Linked DNA regions of Homo sapiens: regions 2 and 3 are each linked to region 1. The links come from fine-mapping of genetic effects on gene expression. A gene starts in region 1. Each other region holds a variant in brackets. All regions are shown on one strand. Distances are from middle to middle.

Evidence for each region. PIP is the estimated chance that this variant, and not a neighbour inherited with it, causes the effect. A credible set is the group of variants that fine-mapping cannot tell apart.
Region 2: its variant is the best candidate, but not a certain one, in a credible set for the expression of ARL15 in lung (GTEx, PIP 0.85).
Region 3: its variant is the best candidate, but not a certain one, in a credible set for the expression of ARL15 in whole blood (INTERVAL, PIP 0.56).

Annotation. Positions count from the first base shown.
Region 1 is chr5:54,309,445-54,312,209 of GRCh38, reverse strand. It overlaps ARL15 (ARF like GTPase 15), which reads left to right and starts at 1,637. Exons shown (of 5, transcript NM_019087.3): 1 at 1,637-1,778. The coding sequence starts at 1,731.
Region 2 is chr5:54,251,011-54,253,775 of GRCh38, reverse strand. All of the region lies in intron 1 of ARL15 (ARF like GTPase 15), which reads left to right. Among named protein-coding and RNA genes, the nearest start is that of ARL15, 58 kb to the left of the region's middle. The variant A/G (reference allele first, on the strand shown) is at 1,646.
Region 3 is chr5:54,346,548-54,349,312 of GRCh38, reverse strand. All of the region lies in intron 1 of LINC01033 (long intergenic non-protein coding RNA 1033), which reads right to left. Among named protein-coding and RNA genes, the nearest start is that of LINC01033, 27 kb to the right of the region's middle. The variant A/G (reference allele first, on the strand shown) is at 1,437.

The sequences.
Region 1 (2,765 bases):
GCAGCGAGCCGAGATCGCGCCACTGCACTCCAGCCTGGGCGACAGAGAGAATCCCTGTCTCAAAAAAACAAAAACAACTTCCCCAACCCCGCCCCCCGCCCAAACCCTCACAACTTTCTGGCTGTAGGAATTCTCGTTTTGCAGCTGAGGAAACAGGTTTGGAAATTAGACTGCATACCTAAAATCACTTGGCTCATCAACCTACAGCTCCCTCTAGGGGGCTGCCTCGCCCTTATTGGTTATGTGCACATTTGGGGTGAATTCCACGGTCATCTAACAGAACTGTTTTGGTAGTCCCAGGTAAACTTACGGTACGGAAATTTGTTTCTTGAGGATACAAAAAAGAAAGGTGTCAGGGGGAAAGTAAAAATTCAACTCCTAAAACATCGCGTGTAGAGTCAGGCAGTCACTTCATAAAGAGTTCAGTCGATGAAGTTTCACTCTTGAAACTTTACTGTATGTATGCAAGCCCTAACTATTAATACAGGTGACAGCATCCACCTTATCTTCCATTCTCCCTAAGCCCTGAGGGTGGGGATGGGGGGGGGGGCACTCCAATCACCTGAGCCTAAGAACATAGCCTAAGAACATGTGTCTGGCATGGTCTGGTTATTTATAGCCTAAAAAAAAAAAAAGCCAGCTTCTTGTCCGATTCAGGCTTTCCCTGCCCAAACCCACTAGCTTAATGCGATATTGACATTACCAGGAAATGCATACGTCCCAAATGCATCTGCTTATAGATGTTTTTACCTCCTGAAATAATACCGGGTCACAAATACTGTTGTGTTTTTTGCAGAGAGCTTCTACTGCTCATTTAATTCAGGGGCGTTGGATTTGTGCTGAGCGTAATTTGACTCCAAGCATGCAAACTGATCAACTTCTTCCCGTGTGTTTGGGGAGTACAAGTGACTACTGCGACTCCTCAAATGTTTTTCTTTTCCTTTTCACGTGGAGGAAAGCGAATTCTCCGAAGACTGTTCGGCGTTCTACGCAGGGGTTGGAAGGGGGGTTCCTGAGTCACCTCTGGCTGCGCGGGGGGCCTGTGTGTACCCTCAGGGACACCAGGCTGGAATCGTCCACCTTACTTTCAAATGATAAAAGTGCGGAGGGTCTTTCTGCCCCTAAGTCGCGTACAGGATTGCCTGTTTACGGAGTACACTTTCACACACTTCTTTCCCGGTGGTGCAGTCTCGTGGCGGCAGAGCCTTTAGGAAGGCTCTGGGGGGAGACAAGATCAGTGGCGACCACGCCTCCCATGTTACAGCGCTCGCTTCCTACTGGGGGTTGGCGGGGACACCAAGGCTCTCCAGCCCGGGAACACGGAGTTCGGCTCCGTTGTACCCAACTGGAAAGCTGTGGAAACACAAAACTCGGGCGGCGACAGCACCAGCCGATTTTCCGCTCTCTTGGCTCTTTCTTCCGCTTGCACCGCCCCCACCCCGGCTCCTCCGCTCAGCACACAGGAACCCACATCCCCCACCACTCCCGCGTTTCTCTCCTGCCACCAGCTGGGGCCTGCCTTTTATAGGCGCCGCAGCCAATGAGCACGCTTCTTTCCTTCTGCCCGCCCGCCTGGCCAATCGCCGCGCCCCTTGTGTAATCTCCGGCTAGTCGGCTGCTTTCGGCTATTTTCGCTGTTGCTGGCTTTTTCAGGAGCTGCTCGCTCGCAGCCAGAGACGCTGCTTTTTTTTTCCGGGTTCGGAGCCGTTCCGGATGCTTTAGGCTGCCGGATGTCTGATCTCCGAATAACTGAGGCGTTTCTGTACATGGATTATCTGGTAGGTGCAGGGCAGGGGTGGCATGTCGCCTCTCGGATCTCGGCGTGCCCGATGGCCCCCTGCCTTGAGGAGCAGCCTTTTTGCTTTCTTTCTTTGGGATAGGATGCCTCTGGGGTTCTTTCTCCCGCAGCCGGCTGGTAAGCCTTTCCCTGGACTCGGAGGGGCAGCCTCCAGGGCGGGTGGGTGGTGGAGCTGACAGGTAAAGGTGCGGCCTGGGCCAGCACGGCTGCAGGGCGAGGGTCGCGCTGGGGCTGCTTGAGAGATGGGGCGGCCGCGGCGGCGCGTCCCCTGCCCGCGATCGGCTTCCTGGCTTCCCTCTGCGCTCTCCGCAGAGGACTTTCTTTCCGGGGGAGCAGGAGTTTTCCTCTCTCCCTGGAGCAGAACTCCAGGTGCTATTAAAGAGCCATAACCAGAATGGCTCACTAAGTGCCCAGCAGCCCTGGTCATTTGATTGTTATTAAATCTCTAAAGCTATGACCTCGGTCGTGGCGGGGTTTTAAAAGCACATTACCATAAAGCAGACGGGTCTAAACTACCTCGCAGGCTGGCACGAACAGGACTGAGTAGGGACAGGTATAGCCCCACCATTCCGGTCTTGGGTGCGTGCCGCGGTTCCACTGTGCACGGATTGGAACCCGGCTGTTTAGGCCAGGCTTGTGCTGAGAAGTTTAGGTGGGAAAAGTGTCAGCACAGTGCTGGGACCGAACATCATTTTAAAAATGGACTTCTATGTGTCTTTGTGGAATTATGCGAGCACCATGTTTTGTTCCAGAAATTATATTTCCCCAGAGTTGCTTGTTTGCGTTTAAGGGGATCCTCATTTACAGAGACTTGTGTTCGATCCTATACGATTATTGTGTTTACCATGTTGGGCAGAACCGCTATTGCCATGCAGAGTTGAAGTAGACGGTTAGAAACATTGACCCTCCTGTCATCTTGTTGGACACATGCACTCGGTTTTCGACTGCAGATTGGCCTGGCAGAGAT
Region 2 (2,765 bases), 58 kb after region 1:
CTTCAAAAAATGGGAAAATTAGCTGGACGTGGTGGTGTGCACCTGTAGTCCCAACTACTTGGGAGGCTGAGGTGGGAGGATCACCTGAGCTCCGAGGTCGATGCTGCAGGGATCTGTGATCACGCCATTGCACTCCAGCCTGGGTGACAGAGTGAGACCCTGTCTCAAAGAAAAAAAAAAAATCTGATTCCTTAAGTCAATTACATAACTAACTGTAACTTTAAAATTAACCTATTTCCAGTTTTCTCTTGAGGCTTGGCAGGGAACCCACTTGTGTTTGAATTGAGTGAGTACAGATTTTCATTTGGTGGTACTTTGTTTTTATCAGTTCTTCAATCTTCCTAACCTCTACTCCCAGCTCCCTGGGCTGGTGTTGATTACATGGGGTTACATGTTGATTACTTGGGCTGCTCTTGGTGCCCTGTGGAAGTGGTATGACCCAGCTTCATAATCCATTATTTGAAGAACGTGAGCCCCTTTAAATTTTCAGGCCCAAGAGAGGCATTGGAATGAAACAGGAGTCATATCACTCCCCTTGAGCTAAATAATTACCTCTTGAAGCCACTTGCTATTTGAGTGCTATGCTGACTGCTGCCGAGAAGCCATAAAATGCCGTATACCTATAGTTCAACAATGTATAGCCAATAATCAATGTTATTTTTGTAAGACAATGAGAATTCCTGGTGAACAATGATTGTAATTGTCCCCTCTCCTGATTCTTGCTTTTTTAAAAAAAAAAACTTGACCTCTGGGCCAGGCATGATGGCTTATGCCTGTAATCACAGCACTTTGGGAGGCTAAGGCGGGTGGATCACCTGAGCTCAGGAGTTTGTGACCAGCCTGGGCAACATGGCAAAACCCTGTCTCTACAAAAAATAAAAAACATTCCAGGCATGGTGGTGCGCGCCTCTATGGTCCCAGCTGCTCGGAAGGCTGAGGTGAAAGGATTGCTTGAGCCCGGAGGCAGAGGTTGCAGTGAGCCGAGATTGGGCCACTGCACTCCAGCCTGGGTGATAGAGTGAGACCTTGTCTCCAAAAATACAAAACAAAACAAACTTGTTCTCTCTTGAGTTCTCTGGAGCACCCCCTAAGGCAACTTGGAAGTGTCCCTGGCTGCAGTCTTCAGCCTTGGCCCAAATGAACTCCATGTTAATTTTGCCTCAGCTTCTTCCTTTTAGACATCACTTTGACCAATCCTGATTGACCCTCATCCTGTGACATGAACCCTGTCGGTGGTTAAACTGGTGAGAGAAATCTTGTCCTTTGTTAAATGCATGGTATCTTTATTAAAGACTTGTTTGCTGAAACTTCAGAAAGTCCAGGGAGCAAAAGCATAGATGAACTTCTAAGTAGCAAGTGTTTTCCTTTTAAAAAGAGCAAAATAAGTATCTAAAACCTGGACTTCAGAACTTTCTTGATGCTATTTTGCAACAGAAAGGTTTGAAGAAATGAACTGGATTGCACAAGGTGACTTAATGAGGCAGTCTCTTCCATAAAGAAAATTTACCTTAACTACTAGATCAACATTCCTTTTGCCTGGAGTGATGTCGAGATCCTTTTACTAAATGTTAAATGCATTCAGGAGTTTCCTAACACATTGCCACCTGCTTAGTTTGGTTTCTGTTGTCTGCCTGATGACTCACAG[A/G]CAATCTCTCCAGTTACTATAAGGTCCATAGCCCTTTGATCCTAGTCTGCATGTTGCTGATAGCATGGAATATCATTTCTTGTGTTCAATAAGGAAAAATTCAGAGAATTTTAAATTAGTCTTTTTCATTTATTCATTAAACAGTTGTTTGACGTGGTCCTCTGCTTCACTGGTTGTCAACTTTGATTGACTATGGGAATCCCATGGGCAGCAAAAGGCCAATATCTAGGTCTTACCCCAGGGATTCTGATGTACTAATTGGTTTGTGGTGTGGCCTAGCATTGGGATTTTTTAATGTCCTCCAGGGTGATTCTATTGTGCAGACAAGGCTGAGAACCACTGCTCTAAAGCTGATTGTGTTCTTAATTGGGGACACTTCATGCTTACCTTATTACACTACAGGTGTTCTTAAACAGGACAGTGTGGTGGACACTGAAGAAGTTAAAATCTACTTGTTGGATCCTTATTCTTGGAGATTCTGAATCAGTAGGTCTGAGGTCTTTAGGAATAGCTCCTTAGGTGGCAGTTCTGATGACATCCCTTTATGAGACACAGATACAGAATAACCATTTAAATAAACTTTAGAAATCTAGTAAGGGTACAGATAAGATGCCAGTACAGTTTATCAGCAGCCTCCGTTTTCTGCCATCCCTAGGTGCTGCAGTGGAAATACCATATTACAAACTGTTGCTGTTGACTAATGCTAATATTCAATTACTTTTTAAAAAGCCTGGCTTTCCTTAATTTAATTCTGCTTGTGGAAAAACATACTCAACAAACAAGAGTGGGAAAATTAAATGAAAATACCTAGATGTTTGTCAAAAGCCTACAGACGTATCTCTTTCTTTGCACTAAAGTTCAAAGCATGCTTAAGAGTTGTTTGGCCACCTTAGAATTTTGCAGTGTGTGTTTTATCATAAAAAGTGTGAGCCAGTAATTAAAGCTTTACATCATTGTTTACTTATCTTCTTCCTTCTTACCTGAATTAGGGGAGGGGCTTTCAAGTGAATCACTTTCTAAGCCTCTGTGCAAATTAGCAGTGTTGTGTTTCCTTCAGCTTTTCCAAGCCATGCTTAATAATTAGGAAGATAGGCTGATTCAATTTAATATAGCATCTGAT
Region 3 (2,765 bases), 37 kb before region 1:
CTATTTCTGCGATTTATAAATCACCACATCAATATATTCAATTTGGATCATTTTATCTTTTCCATGACAAGTCATGGAATGCAGAACCTTTAATAACAAAAGCTTTAAGGACTCAGGAAGGACAAGGCAGCCATCCTGATTCTTCATGAGTCCATACTTAACATTGAATGAATACCAGTTGTTTAACCAATTTAGGAGCATAGCACTGATAACTAATGGGTTATCATAGGTAATTTGACTTACACTGTGGAGTTCATTCAAATTGTATATCTAGTATTGGCTGATTTCACATGATAATTGGGCAAAGTATTTTCTTGGTATTTAATTAATTTTTCTTATACTTAAGTTGGAAGTTTTATAAATCAGTCAGTCTTTTTATTAAGGTTTCAGGAGTTCTTATCCAGACCAATTCTTGGGGAATTCATGGGGAATTCTTACCCATGATATAATTTTAAAGTTGTTAGAAAACTTTATTCAAGAGTGCTTTTCAGGGTTCTTTCTATCCTTTCATGACCTCTTAAAAGACATCATATTCTGGGATTTTTGTGTGCTTATGGAGTTTTTAGAAACTGCAAGAGCATTAAGCAATTAATTGTAGAAATGAGTTTAAATAGTGATAGTTAAAAACACAATTGACAAGGAAATTTCGTTATCTCTCTGGTCTACAATAACTTAACATTATAACCTTAATTATGATTGATATCATATACTCAGACATATTAGGGTTTTAGAAATCCCTATATATATATATATATATAATTTTGGAAAATATATTAATATCATCACTAAAATATAACCTGAAGATTCAACATTATTTTAATGCTTCCCATGATTTTTATACCAAATAAGCCAAATGTCACTGTTGCATTAGTGCATTATTGATGTCAAACCCAATTCTTAATAAAACCTTACAGACAAATGTATTCAATCTTAATTAGTTTGATCATAAAATAAGAACTTTATAAACCTTTTATAATCCTTTACAATTTTTGTTAAAGGGCAGATTAGTGCTCTAAGAAAAACCTGTTGTGCTTTTATTTTGATGTTCAATTTATGGAAAAACCAAATAATACCCCTTTAAATTTAGTCAGTATTTTCACTCATAGAATTTTTTGCAAGGTTAATTTTTTTTTTTTTTTTTTTTTGAGACGGAGTCTCACTCTGTCGCCCAGGCTGGAGTGCAGTGGTGGGATCTCGGCTCACTGCAAGCTCCACCTCCCGGGTTCACACCATTCTCCTGCCTCAGCCTCCCAAGTAGCTGGGACTACAGGCGCCCGCCACTACGCCCGGCTAATTTTTTGTATTTTTAGTAGAGACGGGGTTTCACCGTTTTAGCCGGGATGGTCTCGATCTCCTGACCTCGTGATCCGCCTGCCTCGGCCTCCCAAAGTGCTGGGATTACAGGCGTGAGCCACCGGCAAGGTTAATTTTTATAA[A/G]CCTTCCACAACTTGTTTAAACCTTTAGCTTTATTTAATTTAAAACAATCCTTTAACTGTTTAATCTAGGCAAAAAGTTCAAATTCCCATGACTTCTAATAATCTTTTACCAAAAGTATATTCTACTTTCCTTACACACCTTGCATGTAAACTGTTTTGTTCAGTAGTCTCATATACATGTTATACTGTTAACCCTTAGTGATTTTTACCTCTGCTGAAAAGCCTGGTTAGTAAGTGATTCTAATTACGTACCAGTGTGGAACCTAGGACCCAGACAAAAATTCAGGTAAGGTCTGACTCTTTCCAGCATCTAACTCCACGTGTCACAGGCTTTACATAGCTGTTAAGCAGGCATGCTGTACAGTTAAGAGTCATAGTGGCATTTTATGAAGCATTTAGGAGCCCTAATCACCTTTAAGTTGTACGTTTCTTGGATAAATGCGTTTCATAAATTATTTCACAACTTATGCAGACAATCTATGACATGCTTGGACTTTCTGACTCATCCTAAATATCCCTCTTTTTAAACAACCAGTCATTTTACTTTCGGACAAGAATTTACCATACAATATACTTTCTTATATAAAATCTCTCTTCTTTACAACCTTCTTTGCATAGCTAGGGTGCATGGCTAATTCCACATGTCCTCAGGCCTCATCTAGAATCTAACATATCCAAGGTAAGTAAATTGAACAACTTTCAAAAGTCAAAGAAGCTGATTATGACCTGAAAGCATTTAGTAAACTTAATATCTGACCTGCATAATTTAGACCAAATGTTTAAATTTTGCCAATAATTTTTAAAGCTGTTCTTATTTCCTAAAGATTAGTACAGTTATGTAAACTAAAAGGCATTACAGTTTTTATTTTTCTTTCAAAATATTTGATTTAAGCACTTATTTTTGTTTAAGCCAATTAATTAGAGCTCTTTATATAAACATTACACACACGACACATATATAACTACACAGACAGAAGATTAGTACAGTAGTTGTAAGATTTTTCATTTGCCAATTTTTAAGTTTCTTAATTGGTTATTGGCTTTATGGTGGAGTCCTTGGAAGAACAGGGCCAGGAAAGGGTCTCTAGTGTCTCCTGTTTTTCCCAAGAAGTCCAGGCCATTAGAGCTTGAATACCACTTTTAATTACGCTGGCTTTTAACCATAGCACTCTTTAATAAAGTCCTTTTAAAATTTCTTAATACTTGACTTTAGCCAAGCTAAATGGACAATATTTCTGGCTTTTGAACTTTAGCAAACGTAACCTCCCAGGTGCTTCGAGAAAGAAAAATTTAAGACAGTCCATAGAAGAGAATAGAATCAACAAGTTC